6 separate regions of the Homo sapiens genome follow, and regions 2, 3, 4, 5 and 6 are each reported to be linked to region 1. The links are microRNA targets in miRTarBase. Many come from high-throughput screens and were not tested one by one. Region 1 holds a microRNA gene; each other region holds the end of a gene's coding sequence.

Region 1 (5,292 bases):
TTGTTTTAGTCTAAAAACTCAAGGTCACTGCATATAAATACTGTAAATTTTTATCTATATCTCACCCAACACAGTAGTAGCAAAGATGGTGGAAAAAGCCTTCCTGAAAGAAAAGCTTTTGGAAGTAGGATTTTACCTTGATCGCTATTTCATGAACACCTCAGAATACATCAAATCACACAATAGCCCCTGCTAAGTTCATTCTCTGACCCAATACAGCTTAATATTTTCATTCCTGGCTCCATCACACCACAGTCCATTGAATTAATCCATTTTAAGGCTACTCAAAAATTGGAGCTGGTATTTTTCAAACATTCAACGGGTGACCATCAACTAAACAGCTCAATTACAACCCCTACTTATACAATTTTTCTTGTTATAAGTAATTTAGGACCTCCATGGGAGAAGGGAGAAGGGATAATTTATTAAATGGAGTTAATAATAGCTACTGGTGGTAGTAAGGAAGCTGGAATCCTTGCACCACCACCAAAATAGATAAAAGATTTAAATGTAAATAGTGAAACCAAAAAGTCCTGGAAGAAAACATGGGGAAATATTTAAGTCATCTCAGGGAAGGGAAAATATTAAGAAAAAAAGCCAAAAACCAAAAAAAACATAAAACCTATTAGTCAAAGAAATGTAAAATGAGATCAATATTTAATCATCAAACAAGCAAAAATAAAATTATGGTAAGTAGTAGTATTAAGTATGTGAGAAAACTAAGAATTCTCTCTCTGTTGCTTGGAGTATAAACTGGTAAAACCAGCCTGGCACGGTGGCTCATGCCTGTAATCCCAGCACTTTGGGAGGCCAAGGCGGGTGGATGCGAGGTCAGGAGATCGAGACCATCCTGGCTAACACGGTGAAACCCTGTCTCTACTAAAAATACAAAAAATTAGCCGGGCGTGGTGGTGGGCGCCTGTAGTCCCAGCTACTCGGGAGGCTGAGGCAGGAGAATGGCATGAACCTGGGAGGCGGAGCTTGCAGTGAGCCTAGATTGCGCCACTGCACTCCAGCCTGGGCGACAGAGCGAGACGCCGTCTCAAAAAAAAAAAAAATAAATAAATAAAAAATAAATAAACTGGTACAACCTTCAGAAAGTGCAAGTTGGCAGTATCTTATCGAATTATAAAATGAGTATACCCTTTCATCTAGCTGGTGTTTTTCTCCAGGAATTTACCCTTATTGAAATATTACAAAGTGGAAACACATTGTGTGGTTCAAAGATGGTCAATGAAATACTGTTTATGAAAATCTTAAAAGTCCATCTATAGAAGACTGATTAAAAAATGATGGTTTCCATTAAACGACACACAACAGGCACAGATCTTTGTGTACTGACATGGGAAGATGTCCCAAGTAACGTTCAATTTTGTAAGAAAAAATCTTATTTCTGGATTTTATAAAGCACGTCAATGGTTCTGGGTCTTGTCCCTAGACCAGCAGCATTAGCATCACTGGAAACTTGTTAGTGCAAATTCTTAGGCCCTACCTATTGAATCAGAAACTCTGGGTCCAGGAATCTATTTTAATAAGGCTTCTAGATAATTCTAAAGCATGCTAAAGTTTGAAAAATACTGCAGTAAATGAAATAGAAAAATAGTAAGTGTATTAAAAAAAACTCTGGAAGAATATATAGCAAAGGCAGCTTAATCTATAGTACCTGTGTATTTTACAAAGGCATGAATTTCTTTTATAGACAAGACGTATTCAAAAGGTCACCAGAACAAGAGCTGAAAATTCGTATGCATGACCGCCTATCTACCACGACCGACGCCACGCCGAGTCGATTGGCAACACAGACGAGCCGGTCGAGGTCCGGTCGAGATTGGTAGGCAGTGACAGTGACTCAGCTGGGTCTTGATGAAATGGAAGAGGGAGATATCTGTCAGGGAGTCATTACTATGGAAACTGGAACTCCCCCATTCAAAGGCTTTCAGAGGCATTCTTGTGTAAAGAATTGGCAATGAAAATTTGAGAAAAATGACCTTAATTTTCAAGTTTCAAGAAGGTTCTTGGAGCAATGAAGGAAATCCAAACTTCCTTAGGCCTCTTCAGAGACCTTGGCCAGTCTAGCCCAAGTAGGAAAATCTCCATTAAAAATAACTTTATACACTTGATCTTAGCCAACAGAAGCGATAAAAGCAACTTTATAATGTAGCTATCAACTGTTCCACTTTACTAAACTTACTAAAGACATACTTCCCCCCGCCCCCCGCCCCCCCACCAGCTCCATTCATTTCATGATACATTTTTGGATTCACTTCTTAGGGTTTGAAGTAGGTTTTTAGGAGAAACGCTACAGAAAATAAGGGCTTCACTTTGACCATTAACGAAAACCTCCACTACATTACATCTAACTAAACTTTTTAGGAGGATATGCCCAACAATACTACAGCGCTTTAAATTTCCCTTTAATTTACACACAATATGGGAGGAAGGCTGATGTTTTGTGATATCCCACAGAAGACTAATTCTGATTGCAGGGAAGTGCATGGTTCAAGAACTGAAATCAATCACTCAAGTTAGTCTGGGTCTTAAAGGAGGAGGACTCTTGAGAGGCTCAAATGGAGGGCCAAATGGGGAACGGGATTGTTGCTGGTGAGATAATGGAGTAAGGTCGAAAAATTTGGTTCTGCACTCTTCAGCACGGTGCAGGTTACTTTAGGGCAAAGATAAAGGAACCCTTGTGTTTACAGTGCCCTTTGTAAGACTCCTAGTTGTGATTTAATGTTGTTAAACGGTGGTATGTTTTAATTAAGTTGCTAACTGCCCTTCTTGAGACAAGGTCTCGCTCTGTCGTCCAGGCTGGAGTGCAGTGGCGCGATCTCAGCTCACTGCAATCTCCGCTTCCCGGGGTCAAGCGGTTCTCCTGCCTCAGCCTCCCGAGTAGCTGGAACTACAGGCGCGCGCCACCACGCCCGGCTAATTTTTGTATTGTTGGTAGGGACGGGGTTTCACCATACTACTCAGGCTGGTCTCGAACTCTGGACCTCAGGTGATCTACCCGCCTCGGCCTCCCAAAGTGCTGGGATTACAGGCGTGAGCCACCGCGCCCGGCCACTAACTGCTCTTAAATGTAACTAATCCTTCCGTGCCTCTCTCCACCTGTGAGATGGGCACTTTATTAAAGGTCCAAAGTGACCAGTAGCTCTTGTTACTTTCTCTGTTCCTCGATATTGCTATTTTCCTTTCTAACTTAACACCTACCTGGAATGGTGAGATCACGAGGTAAGGAAGGCAAAGATGAGTGAGAACCACTCAGGTAACAGAAGCAGCCTCTTGCATTCACGGAGTTTACAGCTCTCTGTTCTGGTTACCTCCTAGGAAAGGCCTTCCCACTGATCGTCTATAGACTGAAATCTAACCCTTTTACAGCGGGCCTGGCGAACTGTAGGGGCCGGGCCACATTCACTCGCTTTGAAAAAGGCTGCAGCGCACCTAAAGGAGGCCCGGCTGGCCAGCTTCCTAAAGCACAGCTCGGTGGGAACAAACAGCTATGGACATACAGAAGAAAAGAGGTTAATTCGGCCGGTGATGGGGATCAGAAGCCCTAGTCCTCGTCCAATATTACGTCACTGGGTGACCTCGAGGGACGCTTCGCGGAGGGCCTCATTTTTCTCCACTGGCGAATGCAATCTAAGGGTCTTCGGAAACTGTGGGAGCCCTTGGGCGCACCTATCCGCCTCACCTCGAGGCTTCTCACCCGCTGGCCGCCCCCTTGCGCCCCTCGTTTTTTCTAGCTCCTTTCCCATTCCCCACCGTTTCTCTCCTCCAAAGCTAAGAACTCGAGTTGCTCCTCGGCCAGAAACGGCGGGCGGTCCTGCAACGTGCAGGCGCCAGGTCCAAGCCCGGACTCCCCTCTTCACCCACCTGCCAAAGCCGCAAATTCCGCAGCTGGTGTCCTTCAACGAATGTAACCACCTCTCGGCCCGGCCGGAAGAAGCCACCTCCCCCGCACGCGTTTAGCCGGCCCCCGCGATTCGGCCTAATGCGACGATTGGCTATGGCTCCAAATCCCGCCCTTCCGATTCCTGTCTCTAGGTCACCTCCGCAACACAGCAACGGAAGTAGGGTGTTGAGCCCGCCCACACTTCCGGAAGAATTGCACTGGACTGTGGGTATCCTGGTCTCCGCGTGTGTGAGTACCGCGGCGCGAGGTTAGTGGTAGCTGGGTGCAGACGCCGTGGCGCTGGTGAGTAAAGGCAGAGGCGAAAAAGGAGGAAACCTCATGGCTGTCAGGTCTGTCCCAGGCCTGGTTCCCTGCCAGGCACACGCTAGATGAGTGTGGTTCGGCCACCTTAGCCCCGCTTCGAAGCCGGCTCTGTTGTAGCAGCCCCTGTAACCCCAGGCTTTGTGTTCGGAAAGTAGCCTAAGTATCTTCTGTGCCCCTGGATCGCCTTACTTTTCAGAGCCTCAGTTTCCCCTTGCTTGAAAGGAAATTAAGGGTGAAATTATCAGCAAACTAGACCCCCCAAACTTTCCTGTTTCTATGAATCATATACCCATCCCTGATTCCATATCCTTGGCCCCACCCGGTCATCACTTCTTTAGTCTAAAGCCCTTGTAGAGTCTTATTACCAAGTGTCTGTCAGAACTAACCTCTCCTGTCTTCTGTTTTCACTTATACCCAGTTCTGGTTCTCATGGTTTCTCTGCTGTACTGCATTTGAATCCTTTTTTTTTTTTTTTTTTTCTGTCACTGAGATAACAGGAAACAGTGCATTTGAATCCTTCTACCGAATTTACTTGCCTTCAATACTGTCTCTCTTCATGTCCAATCTATAGCCTGCAGTATATTTTTCTTGCTTACTGTTCTCTCGCTTTCCCTGCTTAAGTCTCTGACTTGCCAAAGCAAACTACCCATATCTAATTCAAGGTCTTCCACAAAAAAGCCCAACTTCTCCTTTAATTTTTTTGAGACAGAGTCTCACTTTGTCTCCCAGGTTGGAGTGCGGCGGCATGATCTCAGCTCACTGCAACCTCCGCCTCCCGGCCTCAAGCAATTCTCACGCTTCAGCCTGCCTAGTAGCTGGGACTAGGCGCAGGCCACCACGCCCGGCTAATTTTTGCGTTTTTGGTAGAGACGGGGTTTCGCCATGTTGACTATGCTGGTCTCGAACTCCTGACCTCAGATGATCCACGCGCCTCGGGCTCCCGAAGTGCTGGCATTACAGGTGTGAGCCATGGTGCCCGGCCTTCTTTAAAATTTAACTTCAATTTTTATGCTTTAATCTCCCAGTGGTCTAGTTGAATAATTCCTCAGAGACAACAGCAAGCCTTTGAGCAGTTG
Region 2 (5,254 bases), not on the chromosome of region 1:
AAAGGAAAACGCAATCATATGTCAACACGGAGTGCTGCATAGACTTGGGGAATGAATGGGGTGTGCGGCGTCCCTCATCCCCTCAGGTGAGGGCCTTCAGGAAGATGGCATATTTTCTGGTGTTGAGAATGGTTGTTATCCTAAAGAGACCCTCATTGTCTGCACACAGGTCAGGGCCCTTTGAAGTACGAGCAGACCTTGAGGAGTCCATGGAATTTGTGGATCCCGGAGTTGCTGGAGAATCAGATGAGAGCGGAGATGAGCGCGTCAGCGATGAAGAAACCGACCTGGGCACAGACTGGGAGAACTTGCCTAGTCCCCGGTTTTGTGATATCCCTTCCCAGTCTGTGGAAGTCTCCCAGAGTCAGAGCACCCAGGCGTCCCCACCCATCGCGAGCAGCAGTGCAGGTGGGATGATCTCCTCTGCAGCAGCCTCGGTGACCTCCTGGTTTAAAGCTTACACTGGACACCGTTAACGAGCATGGACCAAAACATACCAAATCTGCATCAAGAAAGTTCTTCTCCCACTACACTCTAGTAAACATTTTCTGTTTAAGTTAAGATAGTGTCTGGAACAAAGAGGTTAAAGTGTTGTTTTGTTTTGTCTTTTTAAGCAGGGAGACAAACATTTCTATTTGCCAAGTGGCCTGTGATGGTGACCAACATGCTTATGATAATTAAGAGAACAGGGGTCGAAGGTCTTTCTACCCAGACCAGTGCTGGTGGAAGGAGGACCTGTGCGTGTGGCCAGTTCTGCCAAGGAAGCAGTTGATTTGGGTTCCCTCTGGGCCCGGGCCACCGGGCCCACAGATATGGGTCAGTGTGCTGGTCCTTGCGGTGCTGAGACTGTTCCTGACACTTTAAGTTTTAGAGGTTGGTTGAATCACAAGAGGTGATTCTTGATTATTAGGACATGAAAGATAAAAGCTCTTTAATAAGAGTTTTTCTGCCATTGTTTTTTGTATGAGAACCAGCAGGCAATTTAAAATTTCTAATTTGGTCCTTTGATTTTGTTTGGGAGGGGTGAGTTACACGTATTTTATTCATGCTGCTCTGTCGTAGTTTGTCAGACATTCCTGTTTTTCTTTCCCCCACACACCAAAGAAAATGAAAGTCTTTTTCTTTAGGACCCACATCCATAAATGGAAGAAATCCTGGCTGCAATAATGTCTAGAGAGTTTTTAACTATTTTCTTGTATTCTGAGGGGAATTAAGCTTATTCTTACCTAGTTGAATTCCTGCCATCCACACTATGAGCATTTTGAAATTGAACTTATATTTTCTGGGTGAAAATAAGTCATGAAGGTCATTCCCTTATGTAAGCTCAATGCCTGCCTGGGCACAGGGGAAAAGCCACTTAGTTAAGTGGCCTCTGGTCATTCTTGTGGTGTCCACTTTCTTTCTATGGGATTGAGTAGGTGGCAGGTGTTTTCAGGGGAAACCATCCTACTTGTTTCCCCGAACTCTTTGTTGCTCTGAGGACACAGCTTTGCTCAGAAATGCAGCGCAGATCCTTACGGCTGATGCTACTCTGCTCTGTTCTGGGGAAAGCACAATATAAAGAAAGAATTTCCCAGCCAGGCGCAGTGGCTCACGCCTGTAATCCCAGCACTTTAGGAGGCCGAGGCAGGCGGATCACTTGAGGTCAGGAGTTTGAGAGCAGCCTGGCTAACATGGTGAAACCCTGTTTCTACTAAAAATACAAAAAATTACCGGGTGTGGTGGCGCACGCCTGTAATCCCAGCTACTCGGGAGGCTGCGGCAGGAGAATCGCTTGAACCGGGAGGCAGAGGTTGCAGTGAGCCGAGATTGTGCCATTGCACTCCAGCCTGGGCAACAAGAGCGAAACTCCGTCTCAAAAAAAAAAAGAATTTCCCTCAGCAGGAGATCATTTTCAGCTCACGTGTCTTGTCATTCTTTTAGTGACAATCTTACAAGAAAACTATAATGAGAGAGGCATTATGTACAAATATGTAAGTAGTTTATTTTTAATAACTGCAAAAAAATCCTATGTAACAACTACCAAAAGAAATCCTATGAAAGAGTCCTAACAGGCATTATTACCATATCTTATGTGATTGGCATGATAGCACCTCTGATAAATCATTCAGAGGTTTGCCATGCCCCAGCTTCTTTTCTCATCATAATAATTGTAGTTGATACTTTGCCTCCAAGTCCGAGGTGCTATATAGCTTTTGCTAATGGTATATTTGGTGTTTTGTATAGTTTTGGGTAGAGTTGCAGAACGGAGTTTATTTCTATCCGGTAGTCACAAATTCCTTGGCTCTATGAATTTTCCATGAAAGGAGGAAGTAGGCTTTTCTCGTTGTGGGTGGTCTTTTTTTTTTTTGGAGACGGAGTCTCACTCAGCTGCCCAGGCTGGAGTGTAGTGGCACCATCTCCGCTCACTGCAACCACCATCTCCTGGGTTCAAGCAATTCTTCCATCTCAACCTCCCGAGTAGCTGGGATTATAGGCACCTGCCATCATGCCCAGCTAATTTTTGTATTTTAGTAAAGACGGGGGTTTTCACCATGTTGGCCAGGCTGGTCTTGAACTCCTGACTTCAGGTGATCCGCTTGCCTTGGCCTCCTAAAGTGCTAGGATTACAGGCCTGAGCCACCGCGCCCGGCCCCTTATGGGTTCTTCTACACTGCTGGGATCTCTGTTTTAAGTGCTCAGCTTCATGATTGATTGCTGGGCTTCCATTTTCCCATCCAGTTCTGGAGTTCGTAGAGAGTGAAGATGGTAGACTTGAACAGATAAATAAACTTAACGATCTTGTAAGAGTTGTCTAGCTACTTAAAACCCTCAGAAGTAAGAGCTTAGTCTCACGAGTTGTAAGAGTGGGATTTGGAGCTTGGTGGTGGAGACTGACTTCAGCTGAGAGATGCACAACAGTCATGGTTTTCTTAAGCCTCTTATGAAACCATGAATGAGAGATGAAGCTAAAGAATAGAATCCAGAGATCACAAACTCATCTAGAGTACTTCCACAAAATTTACAAAGATGTGGGAACTTTATGGATAGGATATATTTTGTTTGTTGTTGTTAATATCAACTAGAGGCACTTTACATAGGGTTAAGTGATCGAACCCTTTTGTGGTTTTGAACACCAACATACTGGCTTACACTGCTGAAATATTTTGGGTTTCATTATTTTGCACTGGATCCACCCTGTAAATACTCTTAAGTATACATTTCAACCACTGTTTTTTCTACTCTTTTTGCTGCTCATTAAAATCTTTCATGTAGGTGCCAGAACCATATGTAAACAGCTTTTTAAAAAATTGAAGCTGGTATTTTGTTTAAACAAAAAGCCATAGAACTTGGTCATGTTTTCCATTTTAAAATGATTTACTGAAACAAAGTAATACTAATAAAAACCCACAGGCACCAAACAGGCTGCTTAAAATGGTCTGTTAAAGACATTTTTTGGTTATGGAATATAAGAAAAGTTTTGCACATCTGTAAGGGGGAAAAACAGTATATCACCATTGGGTAGAGTGGACGGGACTCATGTAAGGACTCAATTTGGGGAAGAGCATTCAGTGGCATGCTGTTAGAGGACTAGTGTCCGAGAATCTCCTCACAGTATCATGTTGCAGGAATTCCCCATTGCTCTGCAACTTCCAAACCAGTTTGAGTCATACAAATGTTTTCTAAACTTTTATTGTATTACTGCAATAAATCTTTTAACAGTACTTTGCTCATGTGTATGTCTTTTTCAAACTGTTCATTTGCACTGCTGCATCGAGGGTAGCAAGAATGAGATTGAACCCTGGAGTACTTTATACAAATTATAGAAGAAGTTTGTAGAATTTTTTTGCCAGGTAAGAAAAAATGTTAATATATTTTTTAAAATTATGGATTATGGTGGTATTAACAATGATCTTTCCCAAGCTGAGAAGCTGGTTGCATACTTTCCCTAAAGACGTGTTTTTCTTTGGTAGCCATCATTTGATGCATGTGACCTACAATGACCTGGTTTTGTGCAACAGACCCCTGGGGCAGAAGGCCTCTAGGATGCCCACGTGGAACCTGCCCAGACTTTCTTCAGGACAAGAGGAAAAGGGAAATGTTGGAACCACTCAGATGCCTGAGTAGCTTTGGAGAATCCCTCCCCAACCCAACACCCTTATTTTTTATAACTAATTTCTCCCAGGTGGGTAGTCGGCGGTACCCTTCAGATTAGATTATTGTAGAGAAGGACCACCTGCAGGTGGTGGAGAAGATACCAAGAGTGACTACTGTGGAAGAGCCAGGCCAGCCAGGATACCCTCAGGAGCTATTGCCATGGTCATACTGCCCCTTTATCTGGAGCAGAAGGCTGGCAGGCAACAGGAGGAAATAGGCAAGGAAACGGAAGGGTTCTCGAACAGGGTGTGTGCTTTGGTGGTACTGTCCTTCAGTCTTTCCAGGCAGCAGTTTAAAGCATGCTCCCATCTGGTGTTTAAAGGGAGATTTCTCCATCCTGAGTTATGTCATGATTGATGCAGGAAACAGATTGGGAGGAATTAAGGATAACTTTGTCATTGGTAGTGGGGAGATTATTTAAAAGTTGCATCAATAAAATGTACCAGAAAACTTGAAACTGGACTCTTGGGCAAGCCATCTGCACCTCAGCCTTGAAATTCAATGAGGAAAACCACCACCAGCCGACTTGGTAAGAAAATACACTGCAAAGAGTATTTTCCAGTGCTTAGATAGTTGAAGTGAATTTTTTTTAGGGCGGGGCACAGTGGTTCATGCCTGAAATCCCAGCACTTTAGGAGGCCAAAGGCAGGAGGATTGTTTGAGCTCAGAAGTTCAAGGCCAACTTGCGCAACATAGTGAGACCCCATTTTTGTTTTTTTTTTTTTTTTTTTTGAGATGATAGAAGAGATGATAGAGTCTCACTTTGTTGCCCAGGCTGCAGTGTAGTGGCACGATCTCGGCTCACTGCAAGCTCTGCCTCCCAGGTTCACACCATTCTGCCTCAGCCTCCTGAGGCAGGTGTCTGCCACCACACCTGGCTTTTTTTTTTTTTTTTTTTTAAAGTAGAGATGGGGTTTCACCACATTAGCCAGGATGGTCTCAATCTCCTGATCTCGTGATCTGCTCGCCTCGGCCTCCCAAAGAAGTGCTGAGATTACGGGCGTGAGCCACTGCGCCCAGCCAGTGAGACCCCATTTCTACAAAAATTGAAAAATTAGCCAGGCATGGTCGTGTGCATCTGTGGTCCCAGGTACTCAGGAGGTTGAGCTGGGAGGAT
Region 3 (5,292 bases), not on the chromosome of region 1:
TCAACCTTCAACAATGAATACAAATGAATTTCCCTGATACTTTTGGGGAACTGCTCCACCAAATCTAATGCACCTGTTTCAAGTTTTCTTTTAAGCCCTTACTGATGGTACTTGTATAAAGCCATCACTATTGTGCCTCTGTGCCTTGGATGTGTCCCCAGCCACCCCCCTGCATCTGCCACTTGCCTGAAGGCAGCCGTTGTTACGGCATTCTTTTCTTGGCCTATATTAGAGTTAGAGCTGGGAGCTGATTGAGAACTGGGGATCCACCTCTCTTGTGGAAAGGATCTGTTCCTCTCAGTGGCCTTCCCTGCTTTCTGGGCCAGTAAGGTCCAGGTTTTGCATAACTGTTGAGTGGATTTTCACTAACAAACATAATAATTAAAAAAAATTGAAACGTGATTTGCCTATGTGATCTGTCCATCTGGAATTCATGTGAAATACATTTCACCTGCAGACCTGGGCTTTTTAAACTTCTCCCTTGCAAATTGCTCATTCCCTACCTTGCTGCTTTCTCCTGTCATCTGTCTTTCCCAGGATTTTTTTCTCATAGGACTGCAGGACCAATCTCCTGTTTCCTTCCTTCTTCTCTTGTGGTGAACAGACTCTAAGATGGCCCCCATGATCCTACCTCCTGGTACTCATGCCCTTGAGTGTGGGTGGGGCCGGTGACTTGCTTCTAATAGAATAAGAACAGGTGATGGGATGTCACTGCTGTGATCAGATTACATAGGACTGTAGTGTTCCTTCTTCCAGCAGACTCCTTTACTAGCTTTGGTGAAATGGGTGGCCGTGTTGAGGAGATCCCTTTTGCAAGGAACTGAAGGTGGCTCTAGCCGACAGCCAATGAGAAATGGAGGGCCTCTGTCCCACAGGGAACAAAGAACTGACGCTATCAACAATTACACAGACTTGGAGGCAGATCCTTCTCCCACTGAGCCTGGGGATGAGATCAGAGCTCTGGATGACACACTGATGGCAGTTTTCAGATGAAACCCTGAGCAGAGGACCCAGTTCAGCTGTGCCCAGACTCCTAATCCACAAAACTTTGAGACCATAAACATGTATTGTTTTAGCTGCTAAATTTGTGGGAATAGTGTAGAAGTCTTCTTTTGCCCCTGGAGTATGGCAAGGTTCAGGCTATTGTCCCATGACCACGAAAAATTAGGCACATGGACATGGAGAGTGAGTAGGGCAGAGTAGAATTTATTGGGAAAAAGGAAAGCTCTCAGCAAAGACAGGGGTCTTGAAAGCAGGTTGCCAGTAAGGCGTCTGTGTTCTGTGTCTTTTATGTGGCAGAAGCTGGGAAGTCTTCTGTGGGTTTTGCCCAGATGAGAGAAGTAACATTTTCTTCTTGGGGTACTACAGCTGTGCATGCCTAAGTTTTGCCAAAGGGACTCCATCTTGGTTATTACCCATGAGTGCCTAAGCAAAACCCATGGGGGTGCTAAAACCACAATGCTAATGTCATGTTTAATGACATTATAATGAGCTGGGTTAAATTAGGGACATTTAGGCTGATTTATTGTGCCCGCACCAAAGTTGGGATGGTCACTTCTGAGCAACATCCTAGCTTAAGGGTAACTTCTTCCGTTTTTCCTATTAACTGTAGAGGCAGTATAGGCACTGTCTTGCCGTTGTTCTTGTGAACATAGTTCCTTTCTATCCCTTCTCCTGAGACCTTCCCTCTCTATGTGCCTATCCATCCCTTAACTACCTCCTCTCTTAACAGTGTTACACAGCAATAAATAATGCATTCCCTTTTTGATTTCTGGTCATATCATCGATCTAGCCCCAGGGGCATCCTCAATTTCTCTGTCCTGCCTTAAATACACAAGGGTAGAGCATACCGCTCCCTCACACTATGGAAATTATATCAATAGTTATCAGACTGAAAAACTTCTGAGCTTTATACCTCTTCTGGCCAAAGGCTCCCCCATGCCCAAGATACTGGCCTGAACACCTAATCCCTGCTCACAGGGGGTGGCAAAACATGGCAGTTGAATTGTCTGCTTAGCACCTTCTGTCTGTACTATTCCTCCTGACATCACTGGGTATCCCTGCCATTTGGGCCCTCTGACCATCACTAGAGAGATCCTTGGCTTCTGGTCCATAGGGGATGGCAATCTGGCCCACAGGCCTATCTCTGAAGACTATTCAGACTCTGCTCTGTGAAAGGAGAGTGGTGCCAAGTCATCTCCACAGGAGTCAGTGTTTCTTAAGTTTGCTTTCTTTTCTAAAAACTAGTTTCTACTACACAAGCAATGCATGAGCACATTCTCTTAGTTAGAAAAGCAAGTCTTAGCCTTAACTTGGAAATGCCCTTTAACTTCCACCATGGAGTCTGGGCCTTTATCCCACTTGCCTGCAGTAAGACTGTTATGAGTTTGGTGTTTCCCTCCAGACTCTTCTCTATGCTTGGAGATCTTTTTTATTTTTTTAAGAGACAGGGTCTTGCTCAGTCACCCAGATTGGAGTGCAGTGGCAAGAACACAGCTCACTGCAGCTTCAAATTCCTGGGCTCAAGTGATCCTCCCACCTCAGCCTCCTGGGTAGCTGGGACTATGCATGAGCAATTGCGCACAGCTAATTAAAAAAAATTTTTGGGAGACAGGGGTCTCACTATGTTGCCCAGGCTGGTCTTAAACTCCTGGCCTCAACTGATCCTCTCACCTCAGCCTCTGAAGGTGTTGTTATTACAGCTGTGAGCAACCACACCTGGCCTGTTTTGGGGATCTTTGCATGTTAGTTCACACAGTTCAGTCTCATTCTTCCGTTGCCACATGGTACTCCATAGTATTGACAGGTATTTACACGGTTTCCACTTATTTGTCATTACAGACAATGCCACAGTGAACATCTTAGTATATGTCTCTTTGAATGTTTTTTTTTTTTTTTTTTTTTTTTTTTTGAGACAGAGTCTCGCCCTGTAGCCAGGCTGGAGTGCAGTGGCGTGATCTCGGCTCACTGCAACCTCTGCCTCCCAGGTTCAAGCAATTCTCCTGCCTCAGCCTCCTGAGTAGCTGGGACTATAGGCACATGCCACCATGCCCAGCTAATTTTTGTATTTTTAGTAGAAACGGGGTTTCATCATGTTGGCCAGGATGGTCTCGATCTCTTGACCTCGTGATCTGCCCACCTCAGCCTCCCAAAGTGCTGGGATTACAGGCGTGAGCCACCAAGCCCGGCCATGGATGAGTTTTTATAGCATGGAATTGCTGGGTCATAGGATATGATTTAAATTTTACAATTGTCCTCCAAAGTAGCTATACTAATTTACAACTTGACCAGCAGGAAATGCATATCACTTTCCTAAGCCTTGCCAACACTTTAGAAACTTTTTACTCATCGGATAGAAGGAAATATGGTTTCTCACTGTTGTAATTGATAATTCCTTACATCATAAACATCTTTTAGACATTTTTGGCTATATTTCTATTTTATAAATTGTTCATGGATTTTGTCCATTTTTAAAAACTCAGTTGTCTTAATGATTTATAGGTCTTTATATAATCTTTATACTAGTGCTTTTTGTCTCACTTGTCATTTATTTGTGGGTGCCTTAGGAAAAGTTGTAGAATTTGATCCTATTCAATTGGCAAATCTTTCCTTTGTGATTGTTATTATTTTAAAAAGTAAAAGAATAAAGAATGGCTACTCCACAGGCAGAGCAGCCTATGGTTTTTTTCTTTTTACGTCTTTAAAGAAACTTCTCCTACCCCGTGGTCACAAAAATTCTTACATTTTCATCAATATTTCAACAGCTTTGTGTTTAATGTTGGGCCTTAAATTCCAGATTAATTTTAGTGAATAGTGTCAAGTGGGGCTCTATTATTTTTAATGAGTAAGCAATTGTCCCAACTCTATTGGCTAGCCCACCAGTCTGAAATACTGCCTTTATCACACTAAACTCCCATGTGTACACAGGACGGTTTCCGAACTCCGGTTAAGTCCATCAGTACCACAGTTTTACTTGTGTTATCCTCACCCAGTCTTCACAGGGACTCCAGTCCCATTTAACACACCTGCTCTCTCCAACTGTGCAATCTCGTTTTTTCTAGTACCCACTCTCAGGGCTTGGGCATGAACCTACAGCCCTTGAACTCAGTTGGGGAGTAGGGAAATGCCAGTATCGCAGCGATTCAATTCATATCTTGATGATTCTCCACATATCCTTTTTCCCTTTTAGCCTTTATACCCAAGAGAAACTCAGCTGGACACCAGTAACATAAGTGCTATTCATTGAAAAGAGCAAAGCAAGAGCGCTGACCCCTTACGGACAGGATGAAACAAAACAAGCTCTGCAAGTCTGCCTCCTGCTCAGCATACAGGCTTGTTGCCCCACTGGGCCATCTTGTTGTTGATGGGCATCTTGCAGAACTGATCAGACTGTAAGTAGGCAGCGATTTTCTCCAAAGCCTGAAAGGAAAATACACCAAATCTTATAACGACCCCAACCCAGTCCAACAGATGCATACCAGAACAGCAACATTCACGTGTTGCCTGCGTCTACCTCCTCCATTTTTTTGTAGACAGTGCCTCCAAGGTATAGAAGTTAGGCTCTTCCCAAGACTTAAAGGTCTAGAGGTGTCCAACCATTGATCCCATTAGGCAAAAGCCGGGGAAGAATCCTCCACTATGGGATCCTGCAGGTCCCAGGGGAGCCTGTGAGTGTTTTTATAAGAGAAAGGTGCAGGAAACGTCACCTCAAAACGGCACATGAAAGCCTTCAGGTTTGGGAACTCATCCAGGCACTTGGGGTCAAATATACGGTTCTGATCCAAGATATCATAGGTGAGAAAATCCACAAAGGTGAGCTAGAAGAAAAGCAATAAGATGCTTAGGTCTGAGGAGTAGTAGCCTGCAGAGATAGAGAAGTATCCTCTTCTTTTCCCTTCTTCCTACCTTTTCCCCGGCAAACCATGAGAATTTCCCCAGAAACATGGAGAATTGTTTCAGTTGTCCAGGTAGCTCTTCCAAGTACTGAGGCTTCAGTTTTTCCTGAGAGGAAAAAACAGAATGAGAATAGTGGTGATCATCTTTGTAGTTAATCAGGGCACAGGCCAGTGATGGACACTTAGTAGCCCCTTCTCTAGGTGGGTTCTCATTGCCTTCACTTGAGGATGGCAGGGTGGGGAAAGAGGAGTTTAGAAAGAAGAGGCACCAGCACCAGAATTACATGACAAAACAAACCAAAAAATATAAGTTCTGTTTCTTATTCTAACAATCTGGATTGGTGGGAAGGTAGCAGCAGCAGAATGGAACAGAGATAACCCTTGGGTTCCTAAATAC
Region 4 (4,000 bases), not on the chromosome of region 1:
TTTGAAACTAATGAAAATAGAGACAAAACATACCAAAACCTCTGGGATACAGCCAAAGCAGTGTTAAGAGGAAAGTTTATAGCACTGACTGCCTACAGCAAAAAGTTAGCAAGATCTCAAATTAACAACCTAGGAATTGAGATTAAGATGGCAGATAGGGGGCAGGACTAGCTTGCAGCTCCCACTCGGATGGACAGAGCCGTGTATGAAGACTCACATCCTGAAATTCTGCTCCAAGAACTACCGTGGGTACATACCAGGAAAGCTGAGAGAATCCACAGACCATTTGAAGAAACTGGATTACCTCTGCAGGCTCCCTGAGACACTGAAAAACAGTGAGTCTGTTTGCTTTCTCAATGGGGAGGCTTGTGGTCTGGGGCAAGCTCTGAGTCCTGGTAACTGGCTACCTGGAAATAGACTTGGTGCTGTTGGGGGGCATGGTGGGAGTGAGACCAGCCTTTGGGACTGTGGGTTGCAGAGAGTGGGGTGAGGCCTATGACTGCTGGCTTCTTCCCTGGTGACCTGTATGATTCAACAGAGGCAGCCATAATCCTCTTGGTAATATAACTCCATTGGACTGAGAACTACACCTTCATCCCTAGTAGCAGTTACAGCAAGCCCTGCCCAAGGGGAGGCTGAGCTCAGACATGCCTATCCCTGCCTCCACCTGGTGGTCTTTCTCTAACCACACTGGTAGCCAAAGACAAGATTATGAGAGCTCTCATAATCTCTTGAGAGCTCTATGGCCTTGACCACCACCTGAGAAACCTGAATACTTAACCAGGTGTCCCTAGGGCAAGTTTGCATCCTCCCTATAGAACTGCAGCTAATGTGCTCTTGAAAGTGCCACCTCCTGGCTGGAGGCCAACCAACACAAAATGAGTGCACTAAACAAAAACAACCAACGACCCTCACAGAGTCCACTTCACTACCCTGCCACCTCCACTGAAGCAGGTGCTGGTATCTATAGCTGCAAGACTGGAAGACAGTTCACACCAGAGGACTCTTTGCAGACACTCCTCAGTACCAGGCTGGAGCCTGGTAGCTCCACTGGGTGGCTAGACTCAGAAGAGCAAAAACAATCACTACAGTTTGGCTCTCAGGAAACCCCATTCCCAGGGGAAGGGGGAGAATGCTACATCAAAGGAGCACCCCATGGGACGAAAGAATATGAACAGCAGCTCTTGAATCCCAGATCTTCCCTCTGACATAGTCTACCCAAATGAGAAGGAACCAGAAAAACAATTCTGGTAATATGACAAAACAGGGTTCTTTAACACCCCCAAAAGATTATACCAGCTCACCAGCAATGGATCCAAACAAAGGCAAAATCCCCGAATTTCCAGAAAAAGAATTCAGAGGTCAATAATTAAGCTAATCAAGGAGACACCAGAGAAAGAAATAAAAAACACGATACATAATATGAAAGGAAAATTCTTCAGTGAAATAGATAGCATAAATAAAAAACAATCACAACTTCTGGAAATCAGGGACACACTTAGAGAAGTGCAAAATGCACTGGAAAATCTCAGCAATAGAATTGAACAAGCAGAAGAAAGAATTTCAGAGCTTGAAGACAAGGCTTTCGAATAACCCAATATGTCAAAGGCAAAGAACAAAGAATTTTTAACAATGAACAAAGCCTCCAAGATGTCTGGGAATAGGTTAAACATTCAATGCTGGGTCTGTGGGACAGACAACTGATGGATGAAATGAGTACTCAGACACAGATATGCAGTGTAAGAGCAGCTAGGTAACTGCCTGGCTCAAGTGGCCAGAATGCAGCCCTGAGAAGCTGGAGCTGCTTGCTTTTATTCAGCACAAGCACAATGCCGAAAGCCTGGAGCAAACACAATCTGTAGGTGATTAACATTTATTGTTCCCCTTTCACAGGAGTTCTAGACCAGACTGGCCAACATGGTTAAACCCCATCTCTACTAAAAATACAAAAAATAGCTCGGTACAATAGCACATGCCTGTAATCCCAGCTACCCTGGAGGCTGAAACAGGAGAATCGCTGGAACCTGAGAGGTGGAAGCTGCAGTGAGCCAAAATCATGCCACTGCACTCCAGACTGGGTGACAGCACGAAACTCTGTCTCAAAAAAAGAAAAAAAAAATAGAAAGCTGTCCTAACCTGTTGCAACCTGAAAGATTATCTCTCTTGTTCCCCCTCAACTGACTCTTGTTTGAGACAATTATCTAAACTTTTAATAGAGTTCAGGCATTCTGAAGTAATGCTATAATTGGAATGTTTGTGTTTCCTCCAAAATTCATGTTGAAACTTAATCCTCAATGTAACAGTATTAAGAGATAGTCTTTAAGAGATAATTAGGCCACAAGAACGTCCACCCTTATGGATGGGATTTGTGCCTGAAGGAAAAAGGACTGGAGGAAATTAGCTGGGCTCCTTTTTGCTCTTCTGTCTTTCTGCCATGTGAGGACACAGTGTTCATCCCCTACAAATAACACAGCAATAATGCACCACCTTGGAAGCAGGGACTGGATTCTCACAGACACCAAATCTGCTGGCACCATGATTTTAGACTTCCAGCCTCCAGAACTGTGATAAATAAATTTTTAATTATTTTATTATTATTTTAAATAAACAAATAAGTTCAGACTGTTATTTATGAATTACCCAGTCTCAGGTATTTTGTTACAGCAGGAACAAACTGAGATTAGTAATGTGCTGAGGCTAATTGGACAAGCAGGTGTTCATGCTGTCTCCTCTCCCTTCAACTCCTATCTCTCCTCAATAAACCATCACATCCCTGGGTCAAGGTGCTCCCACCTTCACCTTTTCATACACTCATTCCTTTCATGCTGTCACCATGATGAACCACTTAGCTTGAACAAACACAATAAAAATTGTATACAGTCAAACACAAAACTTTCTGTATTATTTAGGAGTTGTGGGTTTTGGAAGCTCATCTTTAGAAAAAACATTGGATCTTTTTTCCTGGAATAGGAGCTTGGAGAGGATAGGATATCATCAGTTGATATTTCTTCTAGTAACATTCCCTGCTATATCATGTATACTGTATTTAGCCTAATATCCCATATATATTTGTGTCCAGTATATTTAATGTACCTATAAAGTAGCAATAACAGGAGAGGATAATCTCTAAAGACCTGCTGAGGAGAGTCCACTTGTTGATCATAAGGGAAAGGCTTTAGAAAGAAAGAAGTCATAGTGCTCAGAAAATTTAATTCACCTCTTCCTAGCTCCCAGAAAAACTGGCAAGGGTCTTGCAACTGAGGAACCAGGGATTCCAGGAGAAGTAATTTGGAGCAATATGTATCTGATGAAGTGTCATAGAGGTCCTGGAAATGTGGGGAGGTAAATTGCTTATGTCAAATGTAAGAGGACCTGGGCCTGCTTCCCACTGAGAAACCTGTGAATGCAGGGACCATGGCGATGCTGTTGAACATCACACTGCTTCCCCAGAGTCCAAACAGTGCCCACTCCTTTACTGCTGATTACAATTTATTATTTCTTTTCATCCACCATCCACTCCTCAAATTATACGCCCAGACCTGCCCAACACTGTCTTATGTTCAGGATTGGCATCACAGAGGTACACAGTTCCACTGGTTCCAGCTTCTGGGAATGGGAACATGTTGCAGTGTGTAACTCATTTTTTGCATAGCTTCATTGCTGTAGTCTACATGAGAATAGACAGGAAACCCAAGTTTGCCCAATTTCTGGGCGTGGGAATAGATGACATACGTCACAAGGCCATGGAGCCGGTATTCCGGCAAGGTGCCTGCCATTCTCATCTCTCCAGTCTGGTCCATTAGATCCCAGCACACAGGGGTCCCCTCAGGCCCCAGGAGACAGCAGGTGGGAAAGGTCTGAATGCAGCGCTCAATGAATCTCTGGCTCCTCTCATTACCACCAAAATGCCAGAATTTATTCACCAAGTGAGCATGGGTAACATCCATGGATGAGAGTTTAAACATCTCTTGGTTGCTATGGAGGGTCCAAGAAGAAAACA
Region 5 (5,292 bases), not on the chromosome of region 1:
TCACCTCTCTCCCCTACCCTGGCACTGCATCATGTTTAAGGTTTATTTCCCGAAACACCAACCTCACCCATAACAGTTCATCTTTTTTTTTTTTTTTTTTTTTTTTTGGTTATTTTCCAGAGAGCCTCCAGGAGGAACTCAGTAAGTTACCATTCCCCCAGAGATCCAGACATGTCTTCCTATCCTCGCTTTGAGCACCTTGATGACTCTTCCCTGTTCATTCCATTGCAGAGAGGAAAAAAATCCAGTACTTGACTCGTGAGTGGCTTTGACATTTTCTCTGAATTCAAATCTGTTACTCTCTCTCTGCTTCATTATTTTCCAGCCCATAAGTCATAGCCCAGGGTTGAAAAGTGGTCTTGGATCCCTTTACCCAGAAAAAGAAAACAAGTGTGGCTCTTTGGAGAAACCACCCAGTGCTTTTTCTCTCTAGAAAAAAAAAAAAAAAAAAAAGAGGTCTTCAATCTCTTTGTACTAGGGGCTACAGACCCTTAAGCTCTAAAAAGCACTGAGGAATATCCAGGGGTACACTTCAAAAGGAAGAGGGAAGAGAAGGATGAGGTGCATTTTCTATGGCAGGAAACTTACTTGTTGTTTCCCATAATCTAGAGGCTGTTGAAAGGAAAACAAGAATGGAAGATTTAAGAAATAAGAAAATCAGAAAAGAGAGAGGGAGGGAGAAAAGTGTGTCTAATAAAGAGGAGTAGCTACAGTGGCTCAGTTGGTACAGATAGATCATAACTGCTTTCAAAAACTAGTCCCTGAAATTGCTCATTAAATTTCCCAAATTCTTTTTAGAGCAAGGTACGAAATGATACAGATTGAGAAGGATGAATCTTGTACTCCTAGGCATACACATATAGACATGGTGACACCTATGCCCAGGTACACATTCAAAACAGATGAGCTGGACCCCATTGGGAAGGAACTCTCACAGTGCCTGCCCTGCCACTAGCGTTCAACCGATGTTCCCAGACTTGATATTAAGAAGAGGTGAAGAAAGAATTGTACCTGAAGATGGAGACCATGGGGAAGGGTGGGATGGTAAAAAAAAAAAAAAAAAAAAAAAAAAAAAAAAAAAAAAAGACTAGATGGATGCAAAAAGAAGGGGAAGGGGCCAACACAGAAAAGGCAGAGTTCTGGTGACACCTCTACCTTTCTTTCATTGTAGGTGGAGAGGAGTCTTCGTCCGATACCAATAAGTCAGCCTGATGCTCTGTAAGTTTGCTGGGTCACATGCCCTGAATATTTCAACTTTTTCTCCACTGTGACCCGTGGATGTTCTCAGCTGGATTAATTAGATCTAATCTAAAGACTCAATTTCTGTGTGGTGGGGGTTCACCTCCGCTTTTCTGGAGCCTCTGAGAAACTCCTGATCCTGCACACCCCCTTGTAAAGCCTGGCCATGCATCCTGCACCCCCCATGACACAGGGAGCCAAGCCTGACATTTTTGAGAAGGTGCCACCTCTGATCCATCAGAGCTGTAGAGGAGGGAAGCTGGACCCTGGAAGAGACTCTAAAGAAAAGGAGAGAAAACATGTAGTGAGAGGAGAATGGAGTGGGAAAAGTACAAAAATACTGACCTTTTTCTTATCTGTGTCTCCTTCCTTTCAGAATGGAAAAATGGCCCTCTTCAAGCCTGGTGAGTAAATCACTGCATGTTCCCTGGACCAACAACCTGAGGGACTATATTCCTTTTTCCTTTTTTCTTCTCCAACTCTTGTGATTTGGAGCAGAAAAGTTCCCTTGACTTCCTTCGTGGGTAGGAAGACGCATAAAGGGTGGAGGTGAAGGGAAGGAGACACACACTGAGTAATACTGCAGGGAGAGTGAGGATGGAAATGCCAAGGAGAGGAGGTGATGCCTGCCCAAAGAACTTTGTCCTTCCCAGGCTTCTCATGCCACCTACTGCCTGTATCTCCTCAAAGGATTTAATGCTTCCAAGCTTTGGCCTCCACATTTTTAGATGATGATTGCAATCTGTTTTTCATGGGGGTTGAGGTGAAGACTGAAGGAATAATGAACATGCTTGGCAGAAACCTAGCAAGAAATAGATGGTGAGCTCAAACTGGGTAGTTGGACAAGGTTTCCAGAAAGAAGGGTTAAGGGAAAGCAACAAGGAAAAGTGCAGTGCCCCCATGGTTCCCAACAGTGGGGAGCTGTCTCCACCCCTAGCCTGGGAGGGCTAAAAAGGGGAGGCAATTACTGGAACCCAGAGAAAGAGGTAGCTTAACGAGGGAGCTTCCTGAGAAGAGTCCTCGGGCCTTGTTAGAGCACCACCAGCTGCTGCTGGCAGGGAGGAAGCAGGAAATTAAACGGTGTGTATCTCCTTTCTTTCTCCTTCTAATCTTCTATCAGGGCCTCCCATTGGCCAAACACAGCAGCAAACCAGAGGACAAGGGAGCCCAGTGGCACTGTCCATAGAGGACAGATTCCTGGGGTCCAGAAGAGGGTGGAGAAAGCTGAAGGCTGGAGAGTGAATCTAGGGCATATAAGGCCCCACACAGAGCCCAGCACAGAGACGGCCTTGCAGCTATCAGGAAGATGAGGAGCTTCCTTCATGGCCTGCTGTGGGCTGAGTAAATAATATGATTGCCTTCTACAGCGCTAGAGATTCATATGTTTATCCCCATTTTTCAGGTGAGGAAATGCTTCAGATGAGGCTCCACCTTGTTAAATAAATTGGATGTATGGAAAAATAGACTGCAGAAAAGGGGAACTCATTTAGCTCACGAGTGGTCGAGTGAAGATTGAAAATTAACCTCTGAGGGCCAGCACAGCAGCTCATGCCTGTAATCCTAGCACTTTGGAAGGCTGAGGAGGGCGGATCACAAGGTCAGGAGATCAAGACCATCCTGGCTAACACGGTGAAACCCCGTCTCTACTAAAAATACAAAAAATAAAAAATTAGCCGGGCATGGTGACGGGCACCTGTAGTCCCAGCTACTCGGGAGGCTGAGGCAGGAGAATGGCATGAACCCGGAAGGCAGAGCTTGCAGTGAGCCGAGATCACGCCACTGCACTCCAGCCTGGGAGACAGAGCGAGACTCTGTCTCAAGAAAAAAAAAAAAAAAAAAAAAGAAAAGAAAATTAACCTCTGAGTATAAAGCATCAGTGGGCAGAATCAATGTGGGGAGGGAAACAACAAAAATGTAGAAAGAGGATCCTTGTTGCTTCTTGGGGCCGCATCAGGGTATTGGGTTAGGCAGATACTGACCTTACTTTCATTTCCCCTCTGGTCACTAGACCCCTGGGGCTTTCACCAATGACATTGATGAGAGAATCACATTCAGGGCAGGCTAGGGACACGGGGTTCTGGAAGGACCTCCTCAGCATGGCCCAAGCCTTGCATGCTGTGGCTCTTAAATCCAGGAAAAATGGCTGACCCCATGGACACCTCCTCAAACTCTCTGCAGCAGATGTAATTCTGTATCCAGACATGGCAAATGCCATCCTCCTTGTTTCTGAGGACCAGAGGAGTGTACAGCGTGCTGAGGAGCCCCATGACCTACCAGACAACCCTGAGAGATTTGAATGGCGTTACTGTGTGCTTGGCTGTGAAAGCTTCATGTCAGAGAGACACTACTGGGAGGTGGAAGTGGGGGACAGAAAAGAGTGGCATATTGGGGTATGTAGTAAGAACGTGGAGAGGAAAAAAGTTTGGGTCAAAATGACACCGGAGAACGGATACTGGACTATGGGCCTGACTGATGGGAATAAGTATCGGGCTCTCACTGAGCCCAGAACCAACCTGAAACTTCCTGAGCCTCCTAGGAAAGTGGGGGTCATCCTGGACTATGAGACTGGACATATCTCGTTCTACAATGCCACGGATGGATCTCATATCTACACATTTCTGCACGCCTCTTCCTCTGAGCCTCTGTATCCTGTATTCAGAATTTTGACCTTGGAGCCCACTGCCCTGACCGTTTGCCCAATACCAAAAGTAGAGAGTTCCCCCGATCCCGACCTAGTGCCTGATCATTCCCTGGAGATACCACTGACCCCAGGCTTAGCTAATGAAAGTGGGGAGCCTCAGGCTGAAGTAACATCTCTGCTTCTCCCTGCCCAGCCTGGAGCTAAGGGTCTCACCCTCCACAACAGCCAGTCAGAACCATAAAGCTACAGGCACACACTGAAGCACTTTACTGATATTCATTCAATTATTCCATAGGACAGTTGTTTGAGTTTGGTGCCACCTTATTGGCCCCTTTATACAGATAAGGAAACTGGGGTGTAGAAAAGTGTATTGACTTTACAAAGCAGACAGGAATAGTGAACAACAGAGCTGGGATCTGAACAACAATGACTAACATTAATGGAGAATTTAAAACGTTCTGAGTGCTGTGTTATGAGCTTTGGTGGGTGTCACTCCTTTAATCCTCACAACACCCTGTCAGGTAGTCTCATTTGGCAAGTATGGAAGCAGAGGCAGGGCAACATTAAGTAGCTTACATAACTCACACGGTAATTTGTGCAGTTGGGAGATGTTCAGCTTCAGTCCCTGGCCAATTGCCCGTTCTTTTCCAGCCTGATTTTTCCTGCATGGGAAGAGCCCACATGTAGCCCTGAGGTTCCCTTCCCAGGACAGCTCCAGGATCGAGATCACTGTGAGTGGTTGTGGAGTTAAGACCCCTATGGACTCCTTCCCAGCTGATTATCAGAGCCTTAGACCCAGCACTCCTTGGATTGGCTCTGCAGAGTGTCTTGGTTGAGAGAATAACGTTGCAGTTCCCACAGGGCATGTGACTTTGAAAGAGACTAGAGGCCACACTCAGTTAATAATGGGGCACAGATGTGTTCCCACCCAACAAATGTGATAAGTGATCGTGCAGCCAGAGCCAGCCTTCCTTCAGTCAAGGTTTCCAGGCAGAGCAAATACCCTAGAGATTCTCTGTAATATTGGTAATTTGGATGAAGGAAGCTAGAAGAATTACAGGGATGTTTTTAATCCCACTATGGACTCAGTCTCCTGGAAAAGGATCTGTCCACTCCTGGTCATTGGTGGATGTTAAACCCATATTCCTTTCAACTGCTGCCTGCTAGGGAAAACTGCTCCTCATTATCATCACTATTATTGCTCACCACTGTATCCCCTCTACTGGGCAAGTGCTTGTCAAGTTCTAGTTGTTCAATAAATTTGTTAATAATGCTGACTCTTCAACTTGGTTTTTTCTAGACTGTGGTGTCTACTCAGCACAGTAGAGTAGTCTACATACCCACTGTACTCCCCACAGTTTCAGTTTGCCTCACTGCAGCATTTTCACAAAACCCTTATTGGATGCCTCTTC
Region 6 (4,000 bases), not on the chromosome of region 1:
CCACTGGCACCGCTGCTGCCCCTGCCCCCACTCCCAGCCCCGCAGGGGGCCCTGACCCCACCTCACCCAGCTCGGACTCTGGCACGGCCCAGGCTGCCCCGCCACTGCCTCCACCCCCAGAGTCGGGGCCTGGACAGCCTGGCTGGGAGGGGGCTCCCCAGCCCTCCCCCCCACCCCCAGGTCCCTCCACAGCTGCCACAGGCAGGTGAGGGACCCCTGAGAAGATGCCAGGACTTATAGTACCCCCTCAGGACATGGACAGTATGTGGGGGCAGGAAGGTTATCTCCTCCCGGGTAAAGCCATTTCGTCCTCTCCAGTTTGGGGCGGAATGAGGCCTGCTCCTCTTGTAAATACCCCCTTCCCTCGAAGCTCCCTCCCGGTGCTGGGGGGCAGCTGAGGGGCTGCAGGGGCAGTCTCCCTCCTCCAAGCCCCTGTACATAACCTGGAGCGTGTGACCTTCAGAGCTTTTCACTTTATGCAAAATGGCTCCTGTGAGGGCTGCAAGCTGGAGGGTGGTGCAGGCCTTGGGCCACAGGGAGGCGCCTGTGGAATAGGGGGAGTTCATGCACCCCTTTTTTCCCCAGAGGGGCTGGACTCAGGTTAGTTTGGGGGTGGGGGCTCCTGCACTTTGCCACAGGCACGGGGAGGGTTTTCTCCTCACCCCCTCTGCCCTCCCAACTTGGGTTGTACTTTCTAAGAAGGTGATTCCCCCTGCCCTTGCCCCCTTCCCCAGAACAAAACATGTTGATCATGTGCAATATTTCTTACTGTGCCGAGAAGCCGCAATGAGCGAGATTAAAGCTGTTTAACACACCTGTGTGGCTGTAGGCTCTTAACAGGGAGGGCTGTTGGTTGTACCAGTCCTGTCCTGAGTTGTCATGGAGCGGTAGGCTTTCCATGAGGTGGGGGCAACAATTCCAGTACCACTGCCCCCAACTTCAGAGGAACCCCATAGGCCAGGTCCCTGACTTGCTGTGGACCAGATGGCCCCTCTCCAGTTTAGGAGCCTGTGCGCTCCGGGAGCCTCAATGCCTGCTGGCCCTGTTCTCAGCCATTGGACTGCGTGAGTTTGGGGAAGGCCTGAGGCAAGATGCCACTGGATGGTTTACCCTCACTGGCTCTGGGGTCATTCGTACTCAGGAAACAGGTCCCAAGAGGTCCTAGCCCAGAGGTGGCAGTGGGTGGGAGGGAGCCTAGTCTACCTGGAATACCCTTGGTCCTCAGTGTGACCCCTGCTGCCCCCATGTGGCCTGGGCCTGCACTGCAACTGGGCTTGAAGGAACCTCCCCTGGGTGACACCCCTCCTGCTCAGCATGTGGACACAGTGCCCACCTGAGGTGACAAGATACCTACACCCTGTGTGGAGGGATGACAACTAGGAGTGGGAGGGTCAGGACACCTCCACAGAAGTGGCATCTAAGCTAGAGATGGAGCACCAGGAAGTTCCAGCCAGGGCAACCGCATATGCACTGGGTCACTATGTTCCCAGAATTCTTGCCTGAGCTTGGTCCTGTAGGATAGTGCTGGAAAGCTGGTCTTAACTAGTGTTTACTGATTGGTAACGCCTGCCTGAAGCACACTATTGTGATAGTGGAAATTAACCTAACCACAAGAATCACAGTGCCTTAATGGATCAGTGATACCTGCCCTGGGCAGAAATAGAACCACAGCCAGGCATGGTGGCTCATGTCTGTAATGCCAGCACCCTGGGAGGCCGAGGCAGGTGGATTGCTTGAGCTCAGGAGTCAGATCAGCCTGGGCAACATGGCAAAACCACTTCTCTACAAAAAATACAATAAGCTGGACCTAGTGGCACATGCTTATAGTAGCAGCTATTCAGGAGGCTGAGGTGGGTGGATCACTTGAGCCTGGGAGGTTGAAGTTGCAGTGGGCTGTGGTCTCACCACTGTACTCTAGCCTGGGTGACGGAGAGAGACCCTGTCTCACACAAAAAACACCTTGCAGAACTGCAGGGTCACAGATCAGGATAAGGACTAATGGTGGTACCCAGATACCCAGACAGGTTCGACCATAAAGCAGGAAACAGCACACTGAGGAAGGAGAGTTTAATGTTGTGGGAAGGCAGCAGGATGCTTAGGGTGCGGGCTCCAGCAGGGGAGCACCTTGGCCCTGGTCTTGGGCCAGCAGACGCAGAAGCAGGGAGTGCAGAGCCCGGCAAACAGGTGTGTAGCCCAGGCGGCTCAGATGCAGGTAATCATACATGTCATGATGGCTGATGGTGCCATCTGAGTGCACAAAGCCAGGGTCGGCATCTAGGAAGTGGGCCCGAGGGTGGCCAGCCAGTGCCGCCCGTACCAGCTCGTTCACCTGTCGGTTCTTCTCCCGAAGTGGGTTGGGATGTTGGCCTCGCGGAAGCAGGCCCTGAGCAGGAACACGAGGCGTAGTAAGGAAACAAGCATTTGAGTATCTTGTTCTCTGTGCCAACCTGTCCTCCACCCACCACCATGAAGTTTCCAGCTGCAGAAAACACTAGGGATGGGCAAGTGGGGAGGGTGGGAGGGTAGTTCCTAAATATCACATCCTAGCCCTCATTTAGCAAGAGACTTCTGGGTTTTACCCTCTTTCGTTTTCTTTTTTTTTTTTTTTTGAGACAGAGTCTTGCTCTGTCGCCCAGACTGGAGTGCAGTGGCGCGATCTCGACTCACTGCAAGCTCCGCCTCCCAGGTTCACGCCATTCTCCTGCCTCAGCCTCCCAAGTAGCTGGGACTACGGGCACCCACCATCATGCCCGGCTAATTTTTTGTATTTTTATTAGAGACGGGGTTTCACCGTGTTAGCCAGGATGGTCTCGATCTCCTGACTTCATGATCCGCCCGCCTCGGCCTCCCAAAGTGCTGGGATTACAGGCGTGAGCCACCATGCGCGGCCTAGCCTCTTTCCAAGTATCACTTAGAAAAATGTTGACATTGGCTAGGTTCAGTGGCTCACGCCTGTAATCCCAGCATGATGGGAGGCAGAGCTGGATAGGTCGCTTGAGCCCAGGAGTTCGAGACCAACCTGGGCAACATGGTGAAACCCCATCTCTAACAAAAATACACAAAAATTAGTGGGACATGATGGCGTGTGCCTGTAGTCCCAGCTACTCGGGAGGCTGACGTGGGAGAATCACTTGAGCCCTGGAAGCAGAAGTTGCAGTGAGCTGAGATCATGCCACCGCACTCCAGCCTGGGCAACAGAGCCAGATCCTGTCTCAAAAAATAAATAGGCCAAGGGAGGTTGCTCACGCCTGTAATCCCAGCACTTTGGGAGGCTGAGACGGGTGGATCACTTGAGGTCAGGAGTTTGAGGCCAGCCCGGCCAACATGGTGAAATGCCATCTCTACTAAAAATACAAAAATTAGCCAGGTGTGGTGGCACGCGCCTGCAGTCTCAGCTACTGTGAAGGCTGAGGCAGGAGAATCACTTGAACCCAGGAGGAGGAGGTTGCAGTGAGGCCAGATTGCGTCACTGCACTCTGGCCTGGCAACAGAGCAAGACTCTGTCCCAAAATAAATAAATAAATAAAAGATATCAACATCATGGCTCATGCCAAGGGATCAATCCGTTTTCAGAAGAGGAAATATCCTAGCTACCTACAAGTGATGGAGCCTAGATTTACCCCAGGAATGCCTGACAACTTTTGGCCTATTCAAGGTTTTTTGAGGGTTTTTCTTTTGTTTTCTGGTGAGACAGGGTCTCTGTCACCCGGGCGAGAGTGCAGTAGCATGATCACAGCTCACTGTTACCTTGAATTCCTGGGCTCAAGTGATCCTTCTCCTTTAGCCTCCCAAGTAGCTGGGGTTACAGGTTTTGCGCACCATCATACCCAGCTAATTCTTTTTTTTTTTGAGATGGAGTCTTGCTCTGTTGCCCAGGCTGGAGTGCAGTGGCACAATCTCGGCTCACTGCAAGCTCCGCCCCCCGGGTTCATGCCATTCTCCTGCCTCAGCCTCCCAAGTAGCTGGGACTACAGACGCCTGCCACCACGCCCGGCTAATT

What was found. Region 1 holds the annotated microRNA hsa-miR-1307-3p (ACUCGGCGUGGCGUCGGUCGUG, at 1,766-1,787, opposite strand). A microRNA usually pairs through its seed, bases 2 to 8, with sites in the 3' UTR of a target mRNA and lowers its output. Matches are read on the target gene's strand: a 7mer-m8 pairs with bases 2 to 8, a 7mer-A1 pairs with bases 2 to 7 and ends in A, and an 8mer does both.
Region 2: miRTarBase lists ATG14 as a target of hsa-miR-1307-3p. Seed matches in the 3' UTR shown: 7mer-A1 at 1,803-1,809.
Region 3: miRTarBase lists GSTM3 as a target of hsa-miR-1307-3p. Seed matches in the 3' UTR shown: 7mer-A1 at 2,958-2,964.
Region 4: the mRNA of GLYAT is a reported target of hsa-miR-1307-3p. The part of its 3' UTR that is shown has no 7-base or 8-base seed match.
Region 5: the mRNA of BTN3A2 is a reported target of hsa-miR-1307-3p. Seed matches in the 3' UTR shown: 7mer-A1 at 3,004-3,010.
Region 6: miRTarBase lists CIC as a target of hsa-miR-1307-3p. Seed matches in the 3' UTR shown: 7mer-A1 at 773-779.

What each region holds. Positions count from the first base shown.
Region 1 is chr10:103,392,536-103,397,827 of GRCh38, forward strand. It overlaps MIR1307 (microRNA 1307), which reads right to left and starts at 1,866; the gene lies at 1,718-1,866. It overlaps ATP5MK (ATP synthase membrane subunit k), which reads right to left and starts at 3,940. Exons shown (of 5, transcript NM_001206427.2): 1 at 3,874-3,940; 2 at 3,211-3,497. PDCD11 (programmed cell death 11) reads left to right here and starts at 4,091. Exons shown (of 36, transcript NM_014976.2): 1 at 4,091-4,195. RefSeq lists enhancers at 3,203-4,035, 3,428-3,517, 3,668-3,917, 4,575-5,076, 5,077-5,292.
Region 2 is chr14:55,364,841-55,370,094 of GRCh38, reverse strand. It overlaps ATG14 (autophagy related 14), which reads left to right. Exons shown (of 10, transcript NM_014924.5): 10 at 170-3,704. The coding sequence ends at 476. It also overlaps a transcript of FBXO34 not described here. Among named protein-coding and RNA genes, the nearest start is that of ATG14, 44 kb to the left of the region's middle.
Region 3 is chr1:109,732,751-109,738,042 of GRCh38, forward strand. GSTM3 (glutathione S-transferase mu 3) reads right to left here. Exons shown (of 9, transcript NM_000849.5): 7 at 4,906-5,001; 8 at 4,707-4,817; 9 at 1,187-4,419. The coding sequence ends at 4,321. Among named protein-coding and RNA genes, the nearest start is that of GSTM3, 5.6 kb to the right of the region's middle.
Region 4 is chr11:58,706,194-58,710,193 of GRCh38, forward strand. GLYAT (glycine-N-acyltransferase) reads right to left here. Exons shown (of 6, transcript NM_201648.3): 6 at 2,564-3,975. The coding sequence ends at 3,573. Among named protein-coding and RNA genes, the nearest start is that of GLYAT, 24 kb to the right of the region's middle.
Region 5 is chr6:26,373,156-26,378,447 of GRCh38, forward strand. BTN3A2 (butyrophilin subfamily 3 member A2) reads left to right here. Exons shown (of 11, transcript NM_007047.5): 7 at 121-141; 8 at 232-258; 9 at 1,172-1,218; 10 at 1,616-1,643; 11 at 2,642-5,157. The coding sequence ends at 1,212. Among named protein-coding and RNA genes, the nearest start is that of BTN2A2, 7.3 kb to the right of the region's middle.
Region 6 is chr19:42,294,983-42,298,982 of GRCh38, forward strand. It overlaps CIC (capicua transcriptional repressor), which reads left to right. Exons shown (of 21, transcript NM_001386298.1): 21 at 1-814. The coding sequence ends at 209. It overlaps PAFAH1B3 (platelet activating factor acetylhydrolase 1b catalytic subunit 3), which reads right to left. Exons shown (of 5, transcript NM_002573.4): 5 at 2,053-2,383. The coding sequence ends at 2,096. Among named protein-coding and RNA genes, the nearest start is that of PRR19, 5.1 kb to the right of the region's middle. RefSeq lists an enhancer at 767-836.